Regions from separate parts of the Homo sapiens genome. Here all the other regions are reported to be linked to region 2. The links are microRNA targets in miRTarBase. Many come from high-throughput screens and were not tested one by one. Region 2 holds a microRNA gene; each other region holds the end of a gene's coding sequence.
Evidence for each region. Region 2 holds the annotated microRNA hsa-miR-4513 (AGACUGACGGCUGGAGGCCCAU, at 3,203-3,224, opposite strand). A microRNA usually pairs through its seed, bases 2 to 8, with sites in the 3' UTR of a target mRNA and lowers its output. Matches are read on the target gene's strand: a 7mer-m8 pairs with bases 2 to 8, a 7mer-A1 pairs with bases 2 to 7 and ends in A, and an 8mer does both.

Region 1: the mRNA of KCTD15 is a reported target of hsa-miR-4513. Seed matches in the 3' UTR shown: 7mer-A1 at 7,348-7,354.
Region 3: the mRNA of FBXL4 is a reported target of hsa-miR-4513. Seed matches in the 3' UTR shown: 7mer-A1 at 3,811-3,817.

What each region holds. Positions count from the first base shown.
Region 1 is chr19:33,810,231-33,820,800 of GRCh38, reverse strand. It overlaps KCTD15 (potassium channel tetramerization domain containing 15), which reads right to left. Exons shown (of 7, transcript NM_001129994.2): 6 at 9,249-9,554; 7 at 5,040-8,011. The coding sequence ends at 7,853. Among named protein-coding and RNA genes, the nearest start is that of KCTD15, 19 kb to the right of the region's middle. RefSeq lists enhancers at 1-467, 346-545.
Region 2 is chr15:74,785,521-74,791,949 of GRCh38, forward strand. MIR4513 (microRNA 4513) reads right to left here and starts at 3,237; the gene lies at 3,152-3,237. All of the region lies in intron 1 of CSK (C-terminal Src kinase), which reads left to right. RefSeq lists enhancers at 1,688-1,877, 1,948-2,167, 2,288-2,337, 2,348-2,457, 3,518-3,827 and 5 more and a silencer at 2,280-2,457.
Region 3 is chr6:98,867,166-98,875,236 of GRCh38, reverse strand. It overlaps FBXL4 (F-box and leucine rich repeat protein 4), which reads left to right. Exons shown (of 10, transcript NM_001278716.2): 10 at 796-6,702. The coding sequence ends at 959. Among named protein-coding and RNA genes, the nearest start is that of POU3F2, 37 kb to the right of the region's middle.

The DNA.
Region 1 (10,570 bases), not on the chromosome of region 2:
AACTCAGAGAGGATTGGGAAGCAAAGCCAGCAGGAGAACAAAGGATGCTTTGCCGGAAAGGGAGGCACCTTCCACGAAGGCCTCCGGGGCCTGGGGAAGTGACTCACTGGGCCCGGGGATGGACCCACCCATGGGGGCTCCGCGGGCCCACAATAGACCCATAGGATAGGAAAGGCACTGTCAGCCTCCGGCCTCTGGCGGGCGCCTCCCAGCCCACCCCCGCGAGATCTGGTCTGCGTCCAGCCCGGGGCCCCTGGGGATAGGCCCTGTTCTCGTTAGGCTCTGCCAGTCGGGACCGCCACCGCCGCTGCTGCCACCTGGGGCTGTGGGCGCGGCCCCTTCCGCCAGCCCTCCCTCCCCTTGGCCCTGCGGGGACCCGGGCTCCCCAGTTCTCGGCAGAGCCACACTACTCCTCTGCCAGAGCGAGGCCATCGATGTCACCCGAAGGTGGCGTCAGGCTCTGTCCCGAGGCTCCCCGGAGGCCTGTGATGGGGACTTGGAGAGAGCCCTCGTTGCGAGCCCCGGCTTCCCGGGCAGTTGCACAACCTCCCCCAATTATGCTCCGTGCAGTGTGTGGCAACCGGGCGAGAATTCCAGGGCCTTGTACCTACTCGTACCAATCTGCCTTCCCGCTGTTTGGCTGCAGGGCCAGGCGTGGCTCTGTGGGCCCGGGGAAATGGGGGTGTGTCCGCGTCCAGGAGGGCGTGGCCCGCGTCAGCCCCGGGAGCAGCAGCCCGGCCCTGCTGGTGCAATCGGCTCGCCCCAAACCGCAGCTTCCTCGGGGGCCCTGAACCGGGTCCAGGACACAGAAAAGGGAGCTCTGGTGACATCCTAGACACGGGCTTTGAGCAGCAGGCCTGGCCCAGCTACGGCTGGTGACGCCGTCCAGCCAGGGATGCGCGGCCTGGGTTCTCCCGCGGGCAGGACGGGAGGCCTCCCGGGCCCCAGCGTGGCTTGGGCGTCCCTGCCCCTCCCAGGCTCTGCTTTTTAAGACTTTGGCCTGGTTTGTGATTTCTGTGTTAAGAAGGATCCTAGGAGGAGGCCCTGAAGACCTAGCTCTTATTCCACGGCCATGGCTCCGGGTCCAGGAACAGCATTGTCCTGTGGGGCCTGGGCGCTGTCGGGACTGGCTGTTCTGTGTAATGGAAATAAAGACAAAACCCCAAATGCAGCTGACCCCTAACCCCTCTCCTTTGTGTGTCCCCGGGAGTGTGCCTGCCTCTTTCTCTGGGTCTCTCATTAGAATTTCACAGAAGCTTCCTTTGCTATGGAGACGCTAGTCTTGAGGCCTGAGAGGTGGTTCTCTCTACATGCAAATCAATGCATTTGGGGTAATCCATGTTCAGTGTCATGACGAAGTGGAAAACTGCAATGTGGTCTCTCTTCCTGTTAAATTTACAGAGCTTCAAGTACACAATTGAAAGTAAACAATTCCTGGCTGGGCGCAATGGCTCACACCTGTAATCCCAGCATTTTGGGAGGCCAAGGTGGGAGGATCACTTGAGGCCAGGAGTTCAAGACCAGCCTGGCCAACAAAGCAAAACCCCGCCTCTACTAAAAATACAGTAATTAGCTGGGCGTGGTGGTGCACACCTGTAATCCCAGCTACTCGGGAGACTGAGGCACAAGAATCGCTTGAACCCAGGAGGCAGAGGTTGCAGTAAGCCAAGACTGCACCACTGCACTCCAGCCTGGGCAACGGAGTGAGACCCTGTCTCACAAAAAAAAAAAAAAAGGAGAAGAAAAAAAGTGAACAATTCCTGTGCATAAACAAATGTCTGCTCCAAGCCTCATGAGCTATCTTGCCCTCCCAAGCACCTGCAGTGCTTGGCATATGCTGGCCACCAATAAGTGGTGCTCTTGGGTGGTTGTGAAGATAAGGATCTTTGCAGGGAAGCAGGGACCCTTTAAAAATCAACATCCAAAGCCTCAACAGATACATCAGCGCCCCTTTCCAAATCATGACTTTTCCTCAAAAAGCAAAAACTCTACTCAACATATCCTTCCACTGGGGGTGGAGATAAAAACACAGAAAGTTCTCTTTCCCTGAGGGTAAACAGCTACCAACAGTCAGTCATGCCTGGATGCACAACCTCAGGGGTGGGCCCCTCCTGGATGCACAACCTCAGGGGTGGGCCCCTCCCCAGGAACGAGCCCCCAACTCTGCCTGCAGTTCCTAGGTCTGCAGAGGTCACCATGGGCCTGGCAGGGCTCTGCTTGTCTAGCTTTGGGGCTTGCAGGAAGAGAGCTCCTGAACCAGATCCAGGGATTAGCCTGGGATGTGGCGGGGTAGGCTTCTCTGGGGCTGGGGTTTCCCTTCCAATGAAAGCTCACAGAGAAATGTCCCTGGGCTTACAGAGGCCATGGCTGCGAGAACTCGCTGGTTGTGAGATCCAGAAAGAGCAGAGACGCGCTCTTCTTTTCTGACTTTCAACCTTCCCTGGGGTTGTGTTCCATTTGGGTCACCTTAGAAAACTCTGGTGCTTCTAAGAGAACATCAGCGCTAGTCTTGGTGCTGGCAGGAAGCTGCCCTTAGCTGTCACCAACACTTTTTTCTTTCTGTTAGTCCACAAAGCATTACCTTACCTCACCGGTCCTCCAGAGAACATCGGGGCTGCCTAGAATGTGGTGACAGGAGTGAACTCTTAATGGAAAGGGGTTCTGGAGGGAATGTTTCTGTGCCTCTCTGCCCTAGTTGGTGAATTTAGCAGTTTAACCTAAATACAGTTGTTCCTGGATAGACCTTCCTCCAAGCAGGTGCTCTAGACCATCTTTTGTCTCGGGCTTTATGTTGGACGTTAGAGCTTTATCTTTGTGATGCCTTTGTAGGTTTCTCTGGATACTGACAAGAAACTTCATTTGATCTAATGAGAAACTTCTCACTAATAAAGGCAGGAGCTGCTTTTGACACATATGCATTAATATCATCTTTCTATTCTTACCATTTTTTTTTCCTGTTTTTGAGAAGGAGTCTCACTCTGTCACCCAGGCTGGAGTGCAGTGGTGAGACTTCGGCTCACTGCAACCTCTGCCTCCCAGGTTCAAGCGATTCTCCTGCCTCAGGCTCCCGAGTAGCTGGAACTACAGGCACGCACCGCCATGCCTGGCTAATTTTTGTATTTTTAGTAGAGACAGGGTTTCACCATGTTGGCCAGGCTGGTCTCGAACTCCTGACCTAAAATGATCCACCCACCTTGGCCTCCCAAAGTGCTGGGATTACAGGTGTGTGCCACTGCACCTGACCCTTTTCTTACCATTCATTCTAAGCAAATCCATTTGTAGAAAATTTTAAAATTTGTGGCAGTTAACGATGTGGGCTTTTACCCTATACAGTGACCCAGACTCTTCAGTGCAGGTAACTCCACATCAAATCTTCCATCAGAGATAAGACAGCTGCCAGCCCCTGATCTCCAGGTGAGGGCAAGCCCTCTCTCTACAAGGAAACTCCTCCTTTGGGCGGGGTTGGGGTGAGCAAAGAGAGCCACCCACATTCTCATCACACATGTGACAAGACCAATATTACTTGGCTGACTTGAGCCTTGTGGCTAAACACATTGCCTACCCCCCTTGAGATGGCCATCAACCTGTGACATCCTACTTCCTACAACAGCTACATCAGCCCAGATGTCAGACTCCATCCAGGCCAGCGGCTGCCTTCTCTGGCCATCAGTTGTCCCTCTAGCTCTGTCTAGACCTCCCTATTGTTTTGAACTGAGGCAGATTTCCTGCCTCCAACTGAATATCCCCTGGCAGTTTCCCATTTTTGTATTTTCCACCTTGTCATCTACTTAGGAGAAATTGAGTATCTTCCAGGGCCAATGCAGCCATTTTCCTGTCTCTGGAGAATCAGGAGGGAAGGCAGGGCTTGATGGGATGGGGCCATCTTGGCAGACAGCATTGCCTCGAGAACATGGGTTGGCCTCTAGGGAGGGGAAGTGGGCAGGCTCTGCTAGGCTTAGTCAAGTTAAATATTATCTTGGTCAGTGGCTCAATGGATATAGTTTCCCCATTTCTCACATCTGTGCTTCCCTTTTTTTTTAATTAATTATTTTTTTATTTTAAGATGGAGCCTCGCTCTGTCGCCAGGCTAGAGTGCAGTGGTGCGATCTCGGCTCACTGCGACTTCTGCCTCCCGGGTTCAAGCGATTCTCGTGCCCCAGCCTCCCGAGTAGCTGGGACTACAGGCACATGCCAGCACACCCAGCTAATCCTTTTTTTTTTGTATTTTTAGTAGAGACGGGGTTTTGCCATGTTGGCCAGGCTGGTCTTGAACTCATGACCTCAGGGGATCCACCCACCTTGGCCCCAAAGTGCTGGCATTACAGGTGTGAGCCACCACACCCAGCCATGCTTTCTCTTTTTAATTTTATTTATTTTGAGACGGGGCTTGCTCTGTTGTCTAGGCTGGAGTGCAGTGGTGTGAACATGGCTCACTGCAGCCTCAACCTCCTGAACTCAAGTGATCCTCCCACCTCAGCCTCCTGAGTAGCTGGGACTATAGGCACATGCCACCATGAGTGGCTTATTTTTAAATTCTTTTGTAGAGATGGGGTCTCACCAAATTGCCCAGGCTCGTTTTGAACTCCTGTGCTGGAGCAATCCACCCGCCTCAGCCTCCCAAAGTGTTGGGATTACAGGCATGAGTCACTGTGACCCGCCCACTTTCCTTCTTTTGAATGTTAGTGGTTTGGTCCACAGATATACATGTATGCAACACCAACGTAGTGCAACATGCTCATCACAGCCTGAACACTTGAGTCCAGGCTTGGGGGTCTGGAGAGGTAAAGGGAGGCCATGCCTGCACCATTTTCCCCGCCAGATCTGCCAACAGCATGTGCACTGAGCGCCTAGAGACAACGCTGCTGCTCTCTGGTCAGTCCTCAAATCAGGAAGCTTTGGGATTTGGGACTTGGGATGTTAAGGTCCTACTCAGTAGCCACACCAGGTCCCAAGTGTGGGGAGTGGTGGTTCCCGAGGACCAATGCTGGAGTACCTGATTGTGGCTGCTTCCGTGAATTACAAACCAAGGGCTAGAGCTGTAATTTATAAAATATCCTTTATTTATTCTAAGGAACAGTCAAGCAGTAGCTTTAAAAAAAAAAAAAAAAAAGACACATTTTTTGAAAGATATTCTTAGTGTTGTGACCTGGCATTGGGCCCCTGTGAGCGGGACGGTGGCTGAGACCGCCTGCTGTGGCTTTGCGAGTTCTCTGCACTCACTGGCAGGGGTTTGGTGGGAAACGGGGAAGCTTTGGCATGGTTCTGTCCAGTTGCTTATAATCAAGAATAATGAGTTTTGAGGTTTACAAAGAGCAGAAGTAACATTTATACGGCTGGCATTTGACAAAAGATTGCTGATAATATACTCATTCCAGGAAGTGTAAAAATGCTTTAAAGGAATGATAATTTGTACTTACTGTTTATGGGGACTAGATATATTAGAATTATAGCATCATTATGGGGACATAGTGTTTCCCTATAAATTCAGAAATTCTCTGGTTGATGTAAAATCATACTTCCTGGTTTTACTTAATTAGTAAAGAAATAAATAAATTAGAGTAACATTTAGTCAGGTAGAGTTACTCCTTTTTCCCCTTCTTTATTAATAAATTTTATTTTTAGCACAATCATTTACCCAAAAAGAGAGTTTGAGAATGTTCGAGAATCTCTACCACTCGGTAACCATGCTGGCTGTTATATCAGAAAAATCCATAAACATACACAGCAGCGAGCTGTTTTCACAAGACTTCCTGCTAATAAACACAACACTTTCTCCTCCACTCAGATGGGAGCCTCAGATGCCAAAACGCAGATGTGCCAACTAACTATAGGCTCGTTGCTAAGCAGAGAAACCTATCAAGTTTGTCCAGCAAATTCGATTGTACAGTGGGATGGCGTCTGCTCTGCGGCCTTGGACAGGGAGCCACTGGTCTGTGCTGCTGTCCCCTGAGGCAGGTCGAAGCTGGTGGCCCTTAGAGGGCAGGTAAAATGGTTCTCATGGGTTAGAACATAAGGGCTTTGAGAAAAAATGCAAAAGGTCTCATTGAAATTGGAGGCCTATGTGAATCTGTTTACATGGAGGCATACTGAGATCTCGTTCTGTGCTTAGGTGAACTGCAGGTCTCACGCTGGCTGCATGACTTGGTGCCCCCTGGCTGGCTGAGCCACTGCCTGCCACCTTCTCATACCATTACGTGGGGGTCTAAAGAGGACATCATCCCCAACCAAAGAATAGTGAGAGAGAAAATCCCAAACATTTGAGACAGGGTTCAAAAGCACCCAGACGCCTTCTGTCTCTTTCCCAGTTCCCATCTGGCTAGGGACTGTGAATCAGAATTCAGAATCTGTGCTGCCCTGAGGGGACAGGCACCCAAATGCAATAAATAACACCAAGCTCAGGACCCAGCCACTGACCTTCCTCCACCACTGCTGCGGGTTATTCCTCGATGGGAACTGAAGGATCCAAGGGAGGAATCCGTTCCGCCCCCAAACCTCCCTGCACAACATCGAATGCGGGAGTCTGGCTGCTGCTTCTGCACAGGACAGAGCCTCCAGTCTTTTGCTTGAGAGCATCATTTATGGCATGGACTGGGAACGCAATGTGTTCACACAAATGCACGACAATTGTACATCAGCATCTTTACAATATTAAAGGAGCCATATACAAGTCTACAGCCATTGTACACAGGATGGTGATGGCTGGGGAGCCCCGCCCACCAGTCCTCTGCAGTTTCTCCACCGGAGAACACTTGGGGAGCTGTCACAAGGCCAGGGGGGGTCCATCTTTGGGCCTGTCGTGGGGGAGGCAGCAGGTCTGCAAGGACTCCTCAGGGCCAGTCCTCACTGGAATCAGGGGTCAAGAGCGCCAGGTCTGCCTGTGTCTGGGTCTCATCGGCAGGCTAGTGTAACAACGTGAATTAAAACTGTGCATATTCGCATGAGAAAACTGGAGCTGGGGATGGCTCCCTGAGCTGGGGACCTAGAAGACGCTGCTGACAGATGGGCCCCTTCATGGTGGGGCCCATTCCTGAGGTAACGTGCAGCCCTGAGGCTGGTCCGAACGGGAGGAGACTTCTCCAGCAGCCCAGGTGCCAGTCCACACAGACAGGACTGGAAGCCCCTGGGCAGCAGGTCAGGTGACCCGGGGAGTGCAGCCTGAGCCCCCAACGGCAGCAAACGTGAAGGTCTCAGGTGGTTACAGAATCACTCAGCCCTCAGGCCCCCACCACTCTCCTCCCAGCAGCCCTGCAGCACACATCCCTGCATCTGTCCCGAGAGCCCCAGCCCTGCAGGCATCTGGGCCTGAATGCCAGGCAGCTGGTCCACCCTGCAGCCATGCTGCACGTCTGACTGAGAACTGAGCACCAGATAAAGAAGCATTGGTCCTTGTCAGCCTCTCTGACTTTTGCAGTTAGGGCTGCATCCATTTTAAATACTGTAGAAAATAAGCCATCTCTCGGACGCTAGGAGACCCGCCAGAGTCTGCCCCGCGTGGAGAGGGATAAACAGCTCCTCTGAAGTAGCTGCAGACGGCTCTTCCAACCCCGCCCCAACAGGCCCCGGGGCCTCAGAGGATGCTGCGCCAGGCTGCGAAGCTGAGGGGCTGGGAGAGCTGGCAGCAGAGATCCCACCGCTGTATCTTTGGGTCGCATCAACAGTCCTTCTGCAGGCATGCCTCCAGCATCCCACGTTCTGTTGCCATGACACCTGGGACCCTGGTGCTCGCTGGGCCAGCTTTGGACCCTCCAGCCTCACCCTCGGTCTCATGCCCACGGCCAAGTATACACAGGCAGAACTCCCCAGCACTGTTTCCAGGTCCCTGGGGGGGCCCAGGTGGGCACTGAAGCAGGGCCTAGTCCAGGGGTTCCTGCTTGATTCGAACAGCAGTGGGGGTGGGCTGCGGCCGCCGCTCCTCCCGGCAAAGCACATACTCGCTGAACTGGGAGGAGTCCACACCGCCCCCACAGGACGCAGCCACGCTGAAACCCCTCTGGAACAGCCGCTCCAGGACCTGCCCAGGAAGAAACAGAGGTCATCAAGGCCAAGCTGCAAGAGGACACCTGGCTTGGCCTGGCAGGGAGGTGGGTGCCTGCTGGGGCAGCCAGCAAGGGCACCTTCTCCTGTGACGATCTCAGTCTTGCTCACTGACAAAGGTCCCTACAGAACCACGTGCTGGGTTCCACCACCAGAGGGACAGAAGTGGCCAGGCCCAGTGACCCCTCAGGTTAGCAAACCTAGTTGGACGACCCCACCCAGGCCACCATCCTGCTGCCCTCAGGGCCTTGATTCCGGGAGGCAAAAAGAGGCTTTGGGTCCCTTCTTTATTCTGTAGGGTGTAACCTATGCCCTCTCTCCAGACACATGGCCCCAAGTGTCCTCCCTGAGTCCTGCCCCAATAATGGAGAGTTCCCTGTCCTTCAGCCTCTAGGCATCCACCAGCTTCCCTGAGCTGTGCATTCCAGGTGGTTTGAAGCCTGGGGGTGCATCAGCTCGTGGGAGCTCTGGAGGGAGAGAAAAAGGAGAAGTCCTCTCAATATTTGAGTCTCTGCAGGCGTCCACAACTATGTGGGTTTGTGCCTCTGTGAGGGTGAGGTCTGATGACTGCGTGTAACACCCGTCTCCTGCAACTAGCAAGTTCTGACCGACAGGCTGTGGAATGCGTGCACAGGGGGCCCTCTTCCCTGCAAAGCCCATTCCACCCTAACCCGGAAATGTGCCAAGCTCTTGGGTCTGCGAAGAGCTGTTGGAAAATAGGCCCTCACTCCATCTGAGCTGTCCAATTCTTGGACCCATCCAGGAAGAGCCGGTCCAGGGATTCTCTTGGCAGCTGGTGGGTGCCTGCGACTCCCAGGTCAGCAGGGAGAGGGAAGGGGCTCCAGACCACCTTTCCACTCAGCCTCTGTCCTGCCTCGCCTGTTGCCTGGGTTTAGTTCGAATCCAAAGTCAGACTCTGGGTGTCAAATGAAGCACGCTTTGTTGAAAATACTCTGGGCCATTTTTATAGAACATCCTTTTGGAAAAAAAAAAAAAAAGTACAGATCGATTTTTTTAAGTCCATCCCCCAGGCGCCATCATTTAATTATGAGAGGGACATAAATTATGCATCGACACATTGTTGCCTTTTTTGTAGGATGGCACGGGGGGCTTCACCGTTTCAGGGATCGCGCCTCCCTCCAGCTCACTCTGCCCCTGGAGGGCTCCGCGGACGCCGGGGGTGCGGCGGGGAGGGGGCAGCGTGCAGCCCTCACCTGTACCGAGTTGAGCCGGCAGTAGCCATTGAGCGGGAAGCGGATGACGTGCGTGGGGTCCTGGTTCCAGCCGGCGTTGACGGAGTTGCACATGACGTCTCCGGTCTCGGGGAAGACCTCCTCGATGAGGGCCTTCTCGCCGCTGAGTGCGATCCGCTCGCCCAAGTCGGGCGTGACGCGCACCACCAGGCAGTCACAGGCCCGGCTGCGGCGCCGCTGCTCCTGCTCCTGCTGCCAGCGCTCCAGCTCGCGCACCATGGGCTGGAGCTGATAGTAGCGCGCCTCCTCGTACAGCAGACTGAAGTCCTGGGGACAGGCGCACAGGGTGTTGATGTGGGTGTCGGAGTAGGGGTGGTGGGGGAAGGGGGAGAGGGGAGGCGGCCTGCCGGTTCCAACCAATTCTGCAGGAACTGCGACTCGCAGGGTATTGTGTGGACTGGGCCGGTTGCACCCATTGTACAGATGGGGCAACTGAGTGGTTTGCAAGTATAAAGAACCTAGCCTTGTCCCAAGGGCAGCCGCTGATGTGCACCTGTGCCAGCCCCCCTGAGCCCTTCCATCTGGCCCCAGGCACTGGGCAGTGAAGCCTCCCCATGGAAAGACCTGGAAGCTCCACTAAAGGACGAGGCTGTGCCTATGCCTGGGGACCTGCTGCTGCCTTAGAATCCCACCGAGAGAAGAGATCATGCTGGGCACAGGGCAGCCGGGCCTAGGAGCTCACAGCCTACCCGGAAGCAAAAAAAGTTCTTCTCCAGCCAAGCCTGCCTGGGTCAGATTTTCAGCTTCATCATCAACCTGCCCTGAGACCTCTAAACCTCTATACCTCACTAACTGAGCCTCTTGGTTTTTTTTTCGTTTTTTTTTGTTTTTTTTTTTTGTTTTTGTTTTTTGAGACAGACTCTCTCTGTCACCCAGGCTGGAGTGCAGTGGCTCGATTTTGGCTCACAGCAAACTCCACAATTCTCGTGCCTCAGCCTCCCGAGTAGCTGGGACTACAGGTGCCTGCCACCACACCCGGCTAACTTTTATGTTTTTAGTAGAGATGGGGTTTTCCCATGTTGGCCAGGCTGGTCTTGAACTCCTGCCCTCATGTGATCCACCTGCCTCGGCCTCCCAAGGCGTGAGCCACTGCGCCCGGCCTCAGTTCCCTTATGTATAAAATGGACATAAACAACCAGCTCAGAGAATGAAAGTGAGGATCAAAGGATGCAAGATGTGCCAAGTGCCTGGTCCAGCCCCTGCCCAAACAGGCAGAGTGTGATAAAGTGTCCAGGGAGGGGAAGCCCGCCCCCTGCCACGCAGCCCCCTTCTGGGCTAAGCAG
Region 2 (6,429 bases):
GCTGAGCCTCGTTGATATAAATAACAGGATGGTAACACCTACTTCAGAGGAAGGTGTAAGGACAGTGTCAACTAACTAACCAAGGGACTCTAAAGTGCCTGGCACAGCCCTTTCTTCACTCCCTCTGTGAGTAGGATTGGCATTGTTGAAGGAGTGCCCACTGCTGGCTGCCTCAACCTGTGGGGAAGGTGCCTGAGCCACGGGCCAATGTTGACTGACCACTCACCTGGCAAAGAGGTGGTCTCCGCCTGAGGAGCCCCTGTGAAACCCCCTGGCCCTGAGGTTCTAGAATACTATGGCCAGTGCCCTTGCCTGCCTTCCCTTCTCCCCATTACCATATGATTGGCTGGCCTAGGACATGGGGCTGGCCCTGGGAAGATGGGCTGCTGGTTAGGGTCCGGGACCTGACTCCACCCATTCCCCTTCCGGTCTCCCAGCATCAGAGCTAAATAGACAAGGCCTCTTCTCTCTCTCTCTCTCTCTTTTTTTTTTTTGTGTGTGTGTGTGTGTGTGTGTGTGTGTGAGATGGAGTTTTGCTCTTGTTGCCCAGTCTGGAGTGCAATGGCGCGATCTTGGCTCACCACAACCTCCGGCTCCCGGTTTAAGCGATTCTCCTGCCTCAGCCTTCCAAGTTGGGATTAGAGGCATGTGCCATCACGCCTGGCTAATTTTGTATTTTTAGTAGCGATGGGGTTTCTCCGTGTTGGTCAGGCTGGTCTCAAACTCCTGACCTCAGGTGATCCACCCACCTCGGCCTCCTGAAGTGCTGGGATTATAGGCGTGAGCCACTGCGCCTCTTCTGTAAGAGCCTGGCTGCCTCCTGCCTCCCAGCTCTGGCTAGGTCAGCCCAGCTTGGCATTTTCCCAGAGGAAATAGAGGCCTGCTTAGCCTGAGACTTAGACAAGGAACCCAGGCATCCTGAGCCCCAGCCCAAGAACAGCCATGCCAGCCTCATCTTCGCACCCTGTTCCAGTAGCCAAGGAAGGGAAAGAAGCTGGGAGATTAAGGGTAGGGGGATTCTGGAGCCTCCCAGAGCTTCCCAGGAGGGAGTTGGACACATCGGGAAACTCATGTTAGCCTCCCCCTCCTCAGCAGGTGTTCCCCAGGTCTAACCTGAGTGTGTATCACTGTGACACACCTGCTTCCTCTTGTTCTACTTTTGTGGAGACCAGGGTAACTGGGAGTGCCCTCCTACAGCCACCCCGTGGGCAGTAGCAGGACACCAGTCTCCTCCTGGCAACCCTGGGCCTAAGAGACTGTAGCCCCAGATGACCCTAGGGTGGCCCAGGACTAACCTAAGGAAGGGGTCCTCCCCCAGGTGGCCCATTCAGTGCAGAGGTCCCTTGGGCACACGACTTCAGACTCCAGCTGCCAAACTTTGGCCTGTGGAGTATCTCCTCCTCCCTGGTCTTAGTGTAAGGGAAGTGGGCATGACAACTGCCCTCCTGTCCCACAGCTTGGGATGGGATGAGGTCACAGGGTGGGGTCCGCCCCAAGATGCTGGCCTGGCCTGGCTCAGATGAGAGCCCTTTGGGTGTTTCTCAGTTTCCCCCGCCCTTGGTTGGGGACAGGATGGGTGGAGGAGCAGGCCACCCCCAACGCCCGGCAGGGAGCACTGCCTCCCTTCCCCCTCTCCTCTGGGTCCCTTCATCCAAGGGCTGGAAATAGAATCCGCTAAGTAATGATTAAAGTCAAATTCAGACCTAAAAATAAAGAGCTGGTGAAGGAAGAGCTGGTGCTCCCTGCATGGCTGAGGGGAGAAGTGAGCAGGGAGAGGCTGGCTTTGGGTGGCTGAGCCCCTGCTCCTCGGGATCAGAAGTACTCCACCAGTTGGGGGGGTGCTCTTTTATCTGCCATGATGTGGCCCATTAAGTGTAGACGGCACCACTCAGGGCAGACTGGCAGGACCCATTAGAAAAAAAATCCCATTTTTCCCATGGGGAAACTGAGGCCCAGAAAGGAGAAGTGGTTTGTCAAGCGACTATTTGAGAGCTCCCCTCAGCAGGCCCCCAGGGACTGGAGGGCCCTGTGCAGCCCAGCCTGCCCTTTCTGCCTGCTCAGTTTCTCTTCCTGGTTTTGAGGTGCTAAGATGAAGTCAGCTTCTCATCACACACTAGCTGTGCACACACCCTCCAACCGCAGCTTCCCTCCACCCCTCCTTCTGTGGTCTGGGCCCAGAGTCGAAGGAACAAGTAGAAGAGAGGCTGCTTGGTGCCCCCCTGGCTGTCCTGATCATGGCATGGTTGTAAGCCTCGTGGGCAGGCGAAAACCTGGGCATCATCTGCCCCCCTTGGACCCTGGCTGCTGCTTCTCAGCCCAGCCTGACACCTGGTCCTCATGCAGACTCGCGCATCTATCTATCTGCAGCTTGTGCTGTCCGTGCTGCAGGGAGACAGGAGGGAAGGATGAAGAGCAAACCCTGAGAGCGCCTCTGCTGGCGGGTAGAGGAGACGAGGAGTCAGTGAGGGGAGGCCTGTGGTTCTCACTTCCTGGCAGAGCTGGTAGGAGCTCTGAAGCTGGGGCTCTGCGTGGGCTGGGGCAGCCTGGAGGGCCTCCTGGAGGGGAAGGTCCTGTGAAAGTTGAGAAGTGTTTGAAGAAGAAGCGTGGTAGGAGGAGAGGTCCTTGTTTGAAGCTTCTGCCCTCTCTAGGGCTGCTGGCTCTTTTCTGTGTGTCCCTCGACAGGCTCTTGGCCTCTCTGAGAGGCTGGGGTATGCAGACAAGCAAGAAGTGGGCACAGAAGTACCTCTGCTTCCCAGAGCAGAACAGCCAAGCTCTGGGCAGACCTCCCCTCGGTGCCCCCCACCTGTCCATTTTCAGGGTGTCGTCTGTCCTGCACAAGGAAAGGTGGGAAGAAAGGTCCCCTAACCAAGGTTCAGACAACTCTGAGCTCAAGTACCCACACAGCTAGTTCCTCCTCTGTCAGAGATCACCAGTCCTTGCCCTATGGGGTGTTTGAAGGATTAAGTAACTAATGCAGTGCCCCAAACCCGGTTGGGTCAGTCAGCTGTAATTCCCGTGTTCTCATTCTGCAGCCCATCCTGCTGGAGGAGTGTACTGGTAACACCCCCATCTCCCTTAAGTAGTAGCAAGTCTGTCCTTTGTGTTGATCCCCACAGCTTTACCTTCTGAGCTGTGTGTTCTGCAGATCCTGGTTCTGAAGTGGGGAGACCAGAAATCTGGGGGCCGAAGTTTTAGACAGCTTATGGGCCTCCAGCCGTCAGTCTCCCCACCTAGAATGTGGCCAGGAGACTTCCGGGTGAGGGACAAGAACATGACTTTGAAGGGTCCATTGAAGGCTAGTGCTGAGAGGCTATATGCAAATGCAGGCAAATGAAGATGCAAAGACCACATCCTGTGCTAAGGGGGTGGGGGAGCAGAGGCCTGGGTTAGGGCCCTGGGGAGGCCCAGAGTCCCCATTGCCCAGCGCACATAGGTAATTAGGCTCCTGAGCGGTAATTAGAAACCTTTCTGGGCCAGGAATGGCAGCCTCAAGCCGCAGCGGTGCCTGGGGAGTAGGCTCCCCATTAGCCTGCTCTAACCCCAGCCCCCACCTCTCCCAAACCACTAGACGGGATTTCCGGTCCCACTGAACCATTGGGGGCAGGGGAAAAAAAGCCAGTGTGTTGCTATAATTTGGTATTTATCCATTAAATCCGCCCTTCTCCTTAGGTCAGGGTGCTGACGGGAGCCCCGGGATGGGGGTAGGGCAGCGTGCCCTGGAGCCAGAGCAGGCATTCTTCTGTTCCTTCGTAACCGCCCCGGGAGGTGTAGGCATCTCCAAGACCCTGGCGCCCAATTCTGCTGCTGCTCACCCTGAGACACCTGTGCAGTGGGGGTGCTGAGGGACCACCAGCGCAGGCTGCGGGGGTCAGTGGAAGCCCTCGGGCACCCTTCCTTGCCTGATGTGTGGTGGGGAATGTCACAGTGCCTCAGCCTGGTGTCCTCTGCAGAACCAGAGGTGGAGCTGATTTTATTGCTGCCAAACTTGCCCAACTGCTGGTGGGTGCCCCGCCCTCCTCAGGTGCACTGCCCTTTGGAGGGGCGGGCCCAAATCTGAAACTTAATTCTGCCTGTATCTGTACTATGACCTGTAGGCCCTGCTCGGAGGTTCCCTGGGCCCCCATCCTGAACCTTCTTCAGTCTTCATTAACTCGCTCTGTACCACAGTTTGCAGTCTTAATCCTGGTTTACTTCAAGGCGCCCCTCTCTCAGTCACTTTCCCCTAAAATCCTTCTAGCTCCTGCTCCCCTCACCCATCTTCCTGGAAGCCTTCCCGGGTGGCCCCTGTCTCACAATCTATTGAGGCACTGAACATACCAGGCCATGGCTGACCATCCAGTAACCAGGAGGACAGGAGCCGGGTCTGCATTTTGTGGTGGTTCCCAGCATCCAGCCCTGGCTTGTGCACAGAGGAGAGGTGTGTGAGTGGTGACCTTGGGTCCCCAAAGGCAGGACCTCTTGAGTCCTTTCCTTCTCCACCCGGATATCCTGGCCTACCAAGCATGGCTCTGGGCACACAGGAAGGCTTCTAAAACACTGGCTCAAAGAATGAGAAGGCAAGGTGGACCTTGCTGTTGCCTGTTTTGCCTCCAGTGGCTGTCCCCATCCCCCAGAGCATCCAGCTAGGTCCTGTGGCAGCACCAGAATCTCCGGGGGCCAGGGCCCTGAGTTCCCCCAGGTCTTTTGTGCACTTCCCTTTTCAGTGGGTATTTTTAGCTGGGCGTAAACAGTTACTGAAGGCTCCCACGCCCCATTAGGCAGCAGAGTTTTGGCAAGGGGGAAGGGCAAGGGAGCCCCTTGACCTCCCCTGGCCCTCAGCACGTGCCTGGCCTTGGGGGTCTACAGCTGCTTCCAGGGTAGGAAAAGGGCAGCCTGGGAGTTTCTGGGCTCCCAGTTCTTTCTCCCCACTCCTTGTCAGCCTGGGCTCACAAGAAAGGCTGCCTGAGGCTGCAGCCACTGACCTCAGCGCTTGGGCACAATGCCAGCCTGTTCCCGGGACCCCAGCACAAGGGCTGCTGGGAGCCGGGTTTAGGGCAGGAAGTCAGAGTGAAGCACTGGTCCTGCCACATCCCAAGCCCCTTGTCCCCTAGCCCTGCGGGAATGGGGTGACAGCTGCTGTCCCTTTGGGGTTAACTATAGTCCTATTGGTTATGAGACCTCGGTGTGGTACAGCCAGCCTGGCGTCCCCTTTTTTTCATTCGTTCATTCATTCATTCATTCAGCACTCATTTACTGAGCAGCCGCTTTGGGCCCAGCCCATGCAGACGTGAGTCAGACCCTCACTTTCCCCCTGCAGAGCTCCCAGTCCACCCTAAACCACAGGCCACAACCAGTGAGGTTCTCACTGGAGCACGGGGATGTGTGAGAGGCCTTGGAGGCCTCGGCAGCCAACACAGCTGGGGACCCAAGGAATTCTCCAGAGAGAGGTGATTTACAAAAAGTTTCTTATTTCCAGTTTTAAGGGGGAAGGTAATAGATGCATGTGGCTTTAAAAAAATAATAATAATTTTTTTAAAAGCCCAAAAGGACAAAATAGCAAATGAACAGTAAAAAGTAAGTTTCTCTTGAACTTGATCTCACTTTCCCTTCTCATCCTAGAGGCAACCTCTGTTACCAGTTTCCTCTGTCTTTCCAAAGATAATCGAGGCATATTTGAGTTTAGGGAGGTGTTGCATTAATACCTCTTTAAAAACACAACTTGTAGTATTCCATAGAGAACCTGCACCTGGCTTTTTTTTTCACAGCCTTTTATTTTGAGTATTTGAAACCTACCAAAAAGTTGAAGTAATAGTATAATGAATATTCATATATCCTTCATGCAGATTTGCCAGTTCTTAACATTTTGCCACATTTACTCTATCTCTTCTTTTATCTACATAGACATATGTGTGTATGTATTTTTTGCTGATTTGAGTGTTAGTTGTAGGCATTGCATCTTTCACCCTAAGAACTTTAGCGTGTATCTCTTATATAATCACAATGTCATGATCACACTTAAGAAAATTGACATTAATTCCATATTATCTACTATGTCCATTTCCCCTCTCCCCAAGTGATTTTTATAGCTGTCCCCCCGACCACCCCTTGATATAGAATTCAATTCAAGATCATTTATTGAATCTTGTCATGTTTCTCTAGTGTCCTGTTCAATCTAGAACATTCTCCAGCCCTTTTTTTGTTTTGCTCTTTTATGACATTGACATGAAGAGTCCGGGCCAGTTGTTCTGGATTTGTCTGATTGCTTCTCCCTGGTTGGAGTCAGGTGGAACAGCTCTGGCAGGAACGCCCCCCCGGGCAATGCAGAGTCCTCCTCCAGGAGGCACTTAGTGTCCATGCGTCACCTTGCTGGTGATGCTTCACTGGATCACTTGGTTCCGGGGTTGTCCGCACGTCTCCCTGTAGTGCAGGTGCTCCTTCCTGTTTCCAATT
Region 3 (8,071 bases), not on the chromosome of region 2:
TATGTACTTTAATAAAATAGTGAGGACAATAACAATTTTATAGTTGAAACTGTAAAAAACTATAACCATTAATTCTTGGTCTACTTGTAAGAGTGAGAATTTACATGAGCTGCGCTCTCTATTTTTATTAAGGAGAGAAGAAATTAATTCATTTGTATAATGAATTCAAGCTAGTTTTTTTTAAGTTTCTTAATTAAAATTCTTGATTAAGGAATATCGTGAAATCTTTATCCCTGATAATTCTAGCGTTTAGGAATAGTTCTACCCCAGGCAGATCTATTGAAAATCTTTTCCAGCTCTGGGATTTCTTGAATCCTTGCTGCATTCATCAGAAAGGAACCCTGTGTAATTTTGTTGCTTCTTACTTTTAGCCAGGGGTGCTAGCAGTGTCACAGTAGTTATCATTGTCCACACAATTGATACTTTGTGAAGTCATATCGCACTTGCACATTTTACATCAAATGCATGGTGAAAACCATTTTGAACTGGGGTGACAGAAATAGGAAAGTCTGGAGGAGCTGATTTGAAGGGGTAGGAGGTAGGAATGAAGATAGTGGGTAGGATATTGGCAAGATTCAGGTCCTAGATGCTAAATTGGCTGGAAAATTCAACTTTTACTTTTTTAACAGAACCATTTCAATATGAAGTCATGTTTGAAAAAATGATTTTAATTTGTAAAGGGTTATTTTAAGTTCATTACAAACAATAAATCATGGATGGATTCATTGTTAGCACATTATATAAATGTTATACTTAAGGTGTTTTGTTTTGTTTTGTTTTGTTTCCCTTAAATAGGAACAAGAATGGTAAGTCCGGCATCCTTAAGAAAACTCCTGGAATCTTGTAAAGATCTTTCTTTACTTGATGTGTCCTTCTGTTCGCAGATTGATAACAGAGCTGTGCTAGAACTGAATGCAAGCTTTCCAAAAGTGTTCATAAAAAAGAGCTTTACTCAGTGACTTAATATATGTTCTGTATTAAAATTAATGTGCTTTGTTGGGGTTTAATTTTGGGATTGGTTTTGGGTTTTGTTTTTAGTTGTTTTAATGGTAAGAATTAAGACATTTGTAGATTTTAAAGAAAAATATGAAATTGTCCATTAAATCAAGTAAAAATGTGCACAAATGTTTTCATAAAATACTGCAAGCACTTCTCTTCAAGAATATGAGTGGATATTATTTTTACCTTATGTTAATCAGTGATATGCTTTAGTCAATAATATGATTGATAAAAGAATAACATGGAATCATGCTAACTTATTTTCAAAGGAACACTGAGCAATAAAGTATCGTGGCATTTATGCAAAAAAAAAAGTTAATTTTTTACACCTTCATGTAAGGATGTCTTATTAAGCCTGTGACCTGGCAAGTGTTTTGTTTGGTATGTACAAAATGGTCAGAGCTAGTTGGAGAATGAGACATGCTTTTCCAGCTGTTTGGTTATTTCTCTGGATTAACTGTTCAACTGGAAAATTTTTAGTTTTTCTAGCCAGGTGTGGTGGCACACACTTGTAGTCCTAGCGACACAGGAGGTGGAGGCAGGAGGATTACTTGAGATGGGATTTTGAGACTCTAGTGTACTTATGATTGCACCTGTGAGCAGCCACTGCACTCCAACCTGGGCAATATAGCAAGTCCCTTTCTCTTAAAAAAAATTGTAGTGTTTCCACTTTTCTTCTGATATTTTTGTCTATTTCACTACTGGATAATGCCAATATAAAAATTTGGGTATAATCAAGAATAAGAGGTAAACTACTAAATAAAAAAAGCTTTCCAACTGTTAGAAGCAGATGCCTTAACATTTTGTGAAAGGTAAAGTTTTGAGGTTTCTGAATTATATAAAAAAACATAAATGTGGAGATATATATTATATATACACATTATATATACATATTATAGATAATATATATCCACATTTATGATTTTTAATATATACATGTATATATTATATATTATATAATTATATATTACATTTATATTATATGTAATGTACATGTATATATTATATACATATATATAATTATATATATTATATAGAGAGAGATATATATCTTGCTAGGGTGTGTGGATGCTGGAATATAACGATTTTGCACTTAACAGGACAATGAATTTTGTTATACTACAGTTAATATTAGTTTTGTGTTCAAAACAGCTGTGCCTTTTCATGCCACAAAATATTTTCTGTCTACTTTCTGAGTAGCAGAATTAATTCATTTTTTTAACAAAACGATGTATGTCAAGTGTTCAGTAGTCACATGAGGAGAATGCTTCCTTTGTGCCTGGCACTGTTTCTTGTGCTTTGCATTGACTAATTCAATTCTCACAACAACCCTGTAAGATAAATGCCATTACTTACCCCCATTTACAGATGAGGAAACTGAGGCAAAGAAAGATTGAAGAATTTATTTATGATCATACAGCTGCTAGTGGCAGAGCCAACATATAAACCCAGGCCATCTGGCTTCTGAAGCATTGCATTAAACCTGTGCTTTTAGGTGTTCAGGGTAGCTTCTGGCTCTAGGGCAGAGGTCAGGAAACTTTTTCTATAAAGGGCCAGATAGTAAATATTTTAGGCTTTGTGGGCTAAGAGGTAAAACTGAGATTGTTATGTAGATACTTAAATAACTAGAGAGAAATAAAATTTGCACGAAAATTTTATTGACAAAATTCAAAACAATAATTTAGAACAATTTTTTTTGTAATACGGGTTTACTAATGAAAAGAATTAAATATTTACAGGGAGGATCAAAGTTAATGTTTCGTGTCATTAAAGTTGATTGTAAGTACTCATTTGTTAATGCTGATCTGTAATAAGATTTTATGTATTTTACTTCTGAAAATTCCTTGCAGATAGGTATTGTCAAATACTTACATTAATCCATGAGAATATGATTTTTGTTGAGCATATTCATCACTTGAAAGGTTACTTCTTCTCTGGATATTTTCCTTTTAGCATGTTATTACATTGCAGCTTAATCACTTCCAATTGAAGACTAGGCAGAAGCTCCTCAATTGCACTGTTAAATTGATTTTGAAAAATGGAAATTTCCTTTACATTTGCAAACTCCAAAAAATACTGCAGGCACTATGGTGTGAGCTACAAATTTGTGTGAGAGTGGAGATCTCGCTTCTTTGTCTTACCTTTTGATAGCACAGGAAATGTGTAAAGCAGCTTGTTGTTACTTGTAATTCAAACAATGTTGTCATCAAAATGACTTATGTTTTGCTTGTAAACACGTTTTGCCTTGTAATTTTGGCTTGAATTCATTTCAAAATTTTATTAAGTCTTGAGCAAAAGCTAAATTCCAAAGCCATTCAGTGTTCCATAATAGTGATTGAGGACATGTCTTCTTTTTCAGAAAAATGTCAATATCAGCCCTGAACGCAAAAGCTCACAATAGAACTAACACTATTATGCCAATGTGGTTGGGCAAATCAGCATATTCATCTTCTGTATCTGACAAAAGATAACTGAACCATTGATGTTTAATCTATCAGAAACTATGAGAGCAAATGAAGTTCACCATTGCTACCAGTAGTTCAGTAATACAAAATTGAATCAAATATATCCCACAAAGTACCTGCTGATGAATAATACAGTAAATAACCATAGATTTTAAATACCTTCTTACCTTTTCACAGGCTTTATAAATTTGACAAACGTAATCATTTTGCTTCACACATTTTTAACACCACCAGTTGTAACACATCTTAGCAGATTCTACTTCAGGTTGCATGAAATTTGTGTTTTCTTCTTATAAAATATTCATGCTTGTAATTGTGCCACACAGATAATTCATAGAGACTAATTTCAGTCACTTCAACGTTGGCATTGACTTATCAAATAAGCAATAACTAGGCAGTGTCAGTAACATCTGTTGACTCATCAAGAGCCAAGGAAAACCACTCAGGGTCATTTGCCTTGTTTTTTATTGACTGTTGATGTTGTTCCCAGTGTTCTCAATTCTTTAAGCAACCATTCTTGCCAAAAGGCTAATTTAATAGTCTTAAGTTTACTTTGGACACAGTCCTTCAGCCGATAGAATCAAACACAATTTAGTTATCGTTAGTAAAATGTTTTCCTTGCTTGGTTAACATCTGAGTCACTTTGGCTGCAACTTTATTTTCATTTTTGAGTTTGTTTTTTTTTTTTTTTGAGACTGAGTCTCATTCTTTTGCCCAGGCTGGAGTGCAGTGGCACAATCTCAGTTCACTGCAACCTCCACCCTGCAGGTTCAAGCGAGTCTCCTGCCTCAGCCTCCCAAGTAGCTGAGATTACAGGCACATGCCACCACACCTAACTAATTTTTATGTTTTTAGTAGAAATGGGGTTTTACCATGTTGTCCAGGCTGGTCTTGAACTCCTGACCTCAAGTGATCCACCCACTTCAGCCTCCCAAAATGCTTGGATTACAGGCATGAACCACTGCATCTGACCTCCCTATAGTATTCTTTAAGAACAGCTATAATGACATTGCATATTAAACATCATACTCTGACATCTAATCTGATTTTTAAAAATTCATATACTAATGTGCCTTAAAAATGTCACTTCAAGTCTACTTTTCTTTTTTTCTCTTGTTTTGATGTTATGGGTAAGCACTAGTAATAAAAAATTTAAAAATATTGTGGTATGACAACATATGTGGCACTCAAAATGCTGGTAACTGCATTACTGCAGTTTTTAGTGTGCCAAGTAGCAGTGCAAAATGATGACAGCACCACATAAGTCTCCTTTGCATTTGTTCAACTCTGCCATTCTAATGTGAAAGCAATCATAGACAGTACCTAAACGAATGAGTGTGGCCATGTTCCAATAAAATTTCATGAGCACTGAAAGTTGAATTTTACATAATTTTGATGTGTTACAAAATACTACTGTGTTAGCCATTAGATTTTTTCAGCCATTAGAAAATGTGAAACTGTTCTTATGAGCTGGCTGGATTTGGCTTGTGGACCAAATTTGTGACCCCTATTCCAGAGTATTTTCGAGTCAGTTAATCCATGTTTGCCCATTCCTAATTTTATAAACCACATTCAAACCTGTTAATTCGCTGTTATCATTCTCATTTTGCCATTTAGATTTTAAAATGAAGAGCAGTGTTTTGTTAGAAAAAACAAAATGTTTACCATAACAAGAAAGATGTGTAGACAAGAAAGATATTTATGTAGACTCTTTGTTTGTTAAATTTTGAAGCCAGGTGATGCATTGTTAGCTTTGACAACTGACTTAAATTTTTGTATAATTATTTATCTTTGCATTTTGCTCAGGTAAATTATCTTCCCAGAGTCTAGAAATAAAGATATCCCTGATCCTGTTTAAGAGCATAAATAATACTCTCAATGTAAATTGTTTTGAAATAAGATCTTAAAAATACAAAATGTAGACAATTAATATTCAGGTGCTTACTTTTGAGCCAATATGTAGCAGAGAAAAACTAATTTCTCTGTGGCAGTATTTTTATTTTTGGCATTTCCCAGGAATTAACTGAAGACTAAAACTCATATGTGAAGTGTAATGATACTAATCAAAGAGTCAGTAAAATTTCCATTTGGCTACCATGTATGTGTGTATATATTTATGTATGTATGTGTGTGTTACATATTTGAGACAGGGTCTCACTCTATTGCCCCAGGCTGGAGTGCAGTGGCATGATCTCAGCTTACTGCAGCCTCAGTCTCCCAGGCTCAAGCGATCCTCCCACCTCGGCCTCCCGAGTACCTGGGACTACAGACACCACCACACCTGGCTAATTTTTTTATTTTTTATAGAGACACAGTCTTTCCATGTTGCCTATGTTGGTCTTGAACTCCTGGGCTCAAATAATTTTCCCACCTTGGCCTCCTGTAGTGCTGGGATTACGGGCATAAGCCACTGTGTCAGGCCCCATGTATGTTAATAGTGAATGTTTGGCTTTTCATTTGTTACTTTCAGCTATTAAAGGATACCTATTACAGACACAGGAATTTACATTTTCAAAGTCATTTTTGACACATCAGTGCTGCATCTACTTTTCTCCTTTTAGCACATTTGATATTGATACTTCAGAGAAACTTTTTTAACTACCCTTAAAATCTTGTCAATGACCATTAACTGCCAATCATCACCTCATTTGCTTTTTTTGACAACATACTACTAGAAACCTAGGCTGTGAGTGTAAAACCATAACTGTTAGAATCATTTTTTTGGCAATAGCTCACATTCTGTTAAGAGTCATTTGCTTTAATCAAAGATCATGATTTATTATATATTTTTTATAAGTAGGGATGGGGCCAAGATTATTCCTTTGGCACAGCAGTAAGTGTGCTCAAGATCTTTGCCTGTAAGCTTGAATATTTGGCTTAAATTTTGTGCATATGAATACTGTTAAAGGTATATTTGACTACATTTTGAAAGGAAAAAGGTAGTCCTGCTAAAATTGACATTTAGGGATATTTTAATCTATGTATTTGGTAAAGTAATTAGTGAAGTATTAGTTATAAAAATTTTAAGGAAAACATTTAAAAGCAAAATAGTCGTATCAGATAAATAGAGTAGAATACACTAAAGATAAAACAAGTCTCTGTTACAAATGAAGTTGTCTGTACAGACGACTGAGATATTTTAATTTTATTTACATAAAAATGCTGTTCAATATCTAATGATTTCTGTTGTTTGTATTCTGTACTTTAGAGTAATAAAATAAGTTTGAGTATCTCATTAGTTCACTTTCAAAATTGATCATTTCAGGGCACTGCTGAATATAATGGAAGGTTTGGGTAAATAGGTTTGCGTCACAGCCCCTGTGAAATTACCAGCCTAGATGAGGAGCCATCCGCCTGTGTACAGAACTCTTTTTTTTTTTTTTTTCATTTCTCTCTCTATATATTTTTTATTATTATTATACTTTTAAGTTTTAGGGTACATGTGCACAATGTGCAGGTTAGTTACATATGTATACATGTGCCATGCTGGTGCGCTGCACCCGCTAACTCGTCATCTAGCATTAGGTATATCTCCTAATGCTATCCCTCCCCCCTCCCCCCACCCCACAACAGTCCCCAGAGTGTGATGTTCCCCTTCCTGTGTCCATGTGTTCTCATTGTTCAATTCCCACCTATAAGTGAGAATATGCGGTGTTTGGTTTTTTGTCCTTGCGATAGTTTACTGAGAATGATGATTTCCAATTTCATCCATGTCCCTACAAAGGACATGAACTCATCATTTTTTATGGCTGCATAGTATTCCATGGTGTATATGTGCCACATTTTCTTAATCCAGTCTATCATTGTTGGACATTTGGGTTGGTTCCAAGTCTTTGCTATTGTGAATAGTGCCGCAATAAACATACGTGTGCATGTGTCTTTATAGCAGCATGATTTATAGTCCTTTGGGTATATACCCAGTAATGGGATGGCTGGGTCAAATGGTATTTCTAGTTCTAGATCCCTGAGGAATCGCCACACTGACTTCCACAATGGTTGAACTAGTTTACAGTCCCCCCAACAGTGTAAAAGTGTTCCTATTTCTCCACATCCTCTCCAGCACCTGTTGTTTCCTGACTTTTTAATGATTGCCATTCTAACTGGTATGAGATGGTATCTCATTGTGGTTTTGATTTGCATTTCTCTGATGGCCAGTGATGGTGAGCATTTTTTCATGTGTCTTTTGGCTGCATAAATGTCTTCTTTGAGAAGTGTCTGTTCATGTCCTTCGCCCACTTTTTGATGGGGTTGTTTGTTTTTTTCTTGTAAATTTGTTTGAGTTCATTGTAGATTCTGGATATTAGCCCTTTGTCAGATGGGTAGGTTGTGAAAATTTTCTCCCATTTTGTAGGTTGCCTGTTCACTCTGATGGTAGTTTCTTTTGCTGTGCTGAAGCTCTTTAGTTTAATTAGATCCCATTTGTCCATTTTGGCTTTTGTTGCCATTGCTTTTGGTGTTTTAGACATGAAGTCCTTGCCCATGCCTATGTCCTGAATGGTAATGCCTAGGTTTTCTTCTAGGGTTTTTATGGTTTTAGGTCTAAAGTTTAAGTCTTTAATCCATCTTGAATTGATTTTTGTATAAGGTGTAAGGAAGGGATCCAGTTT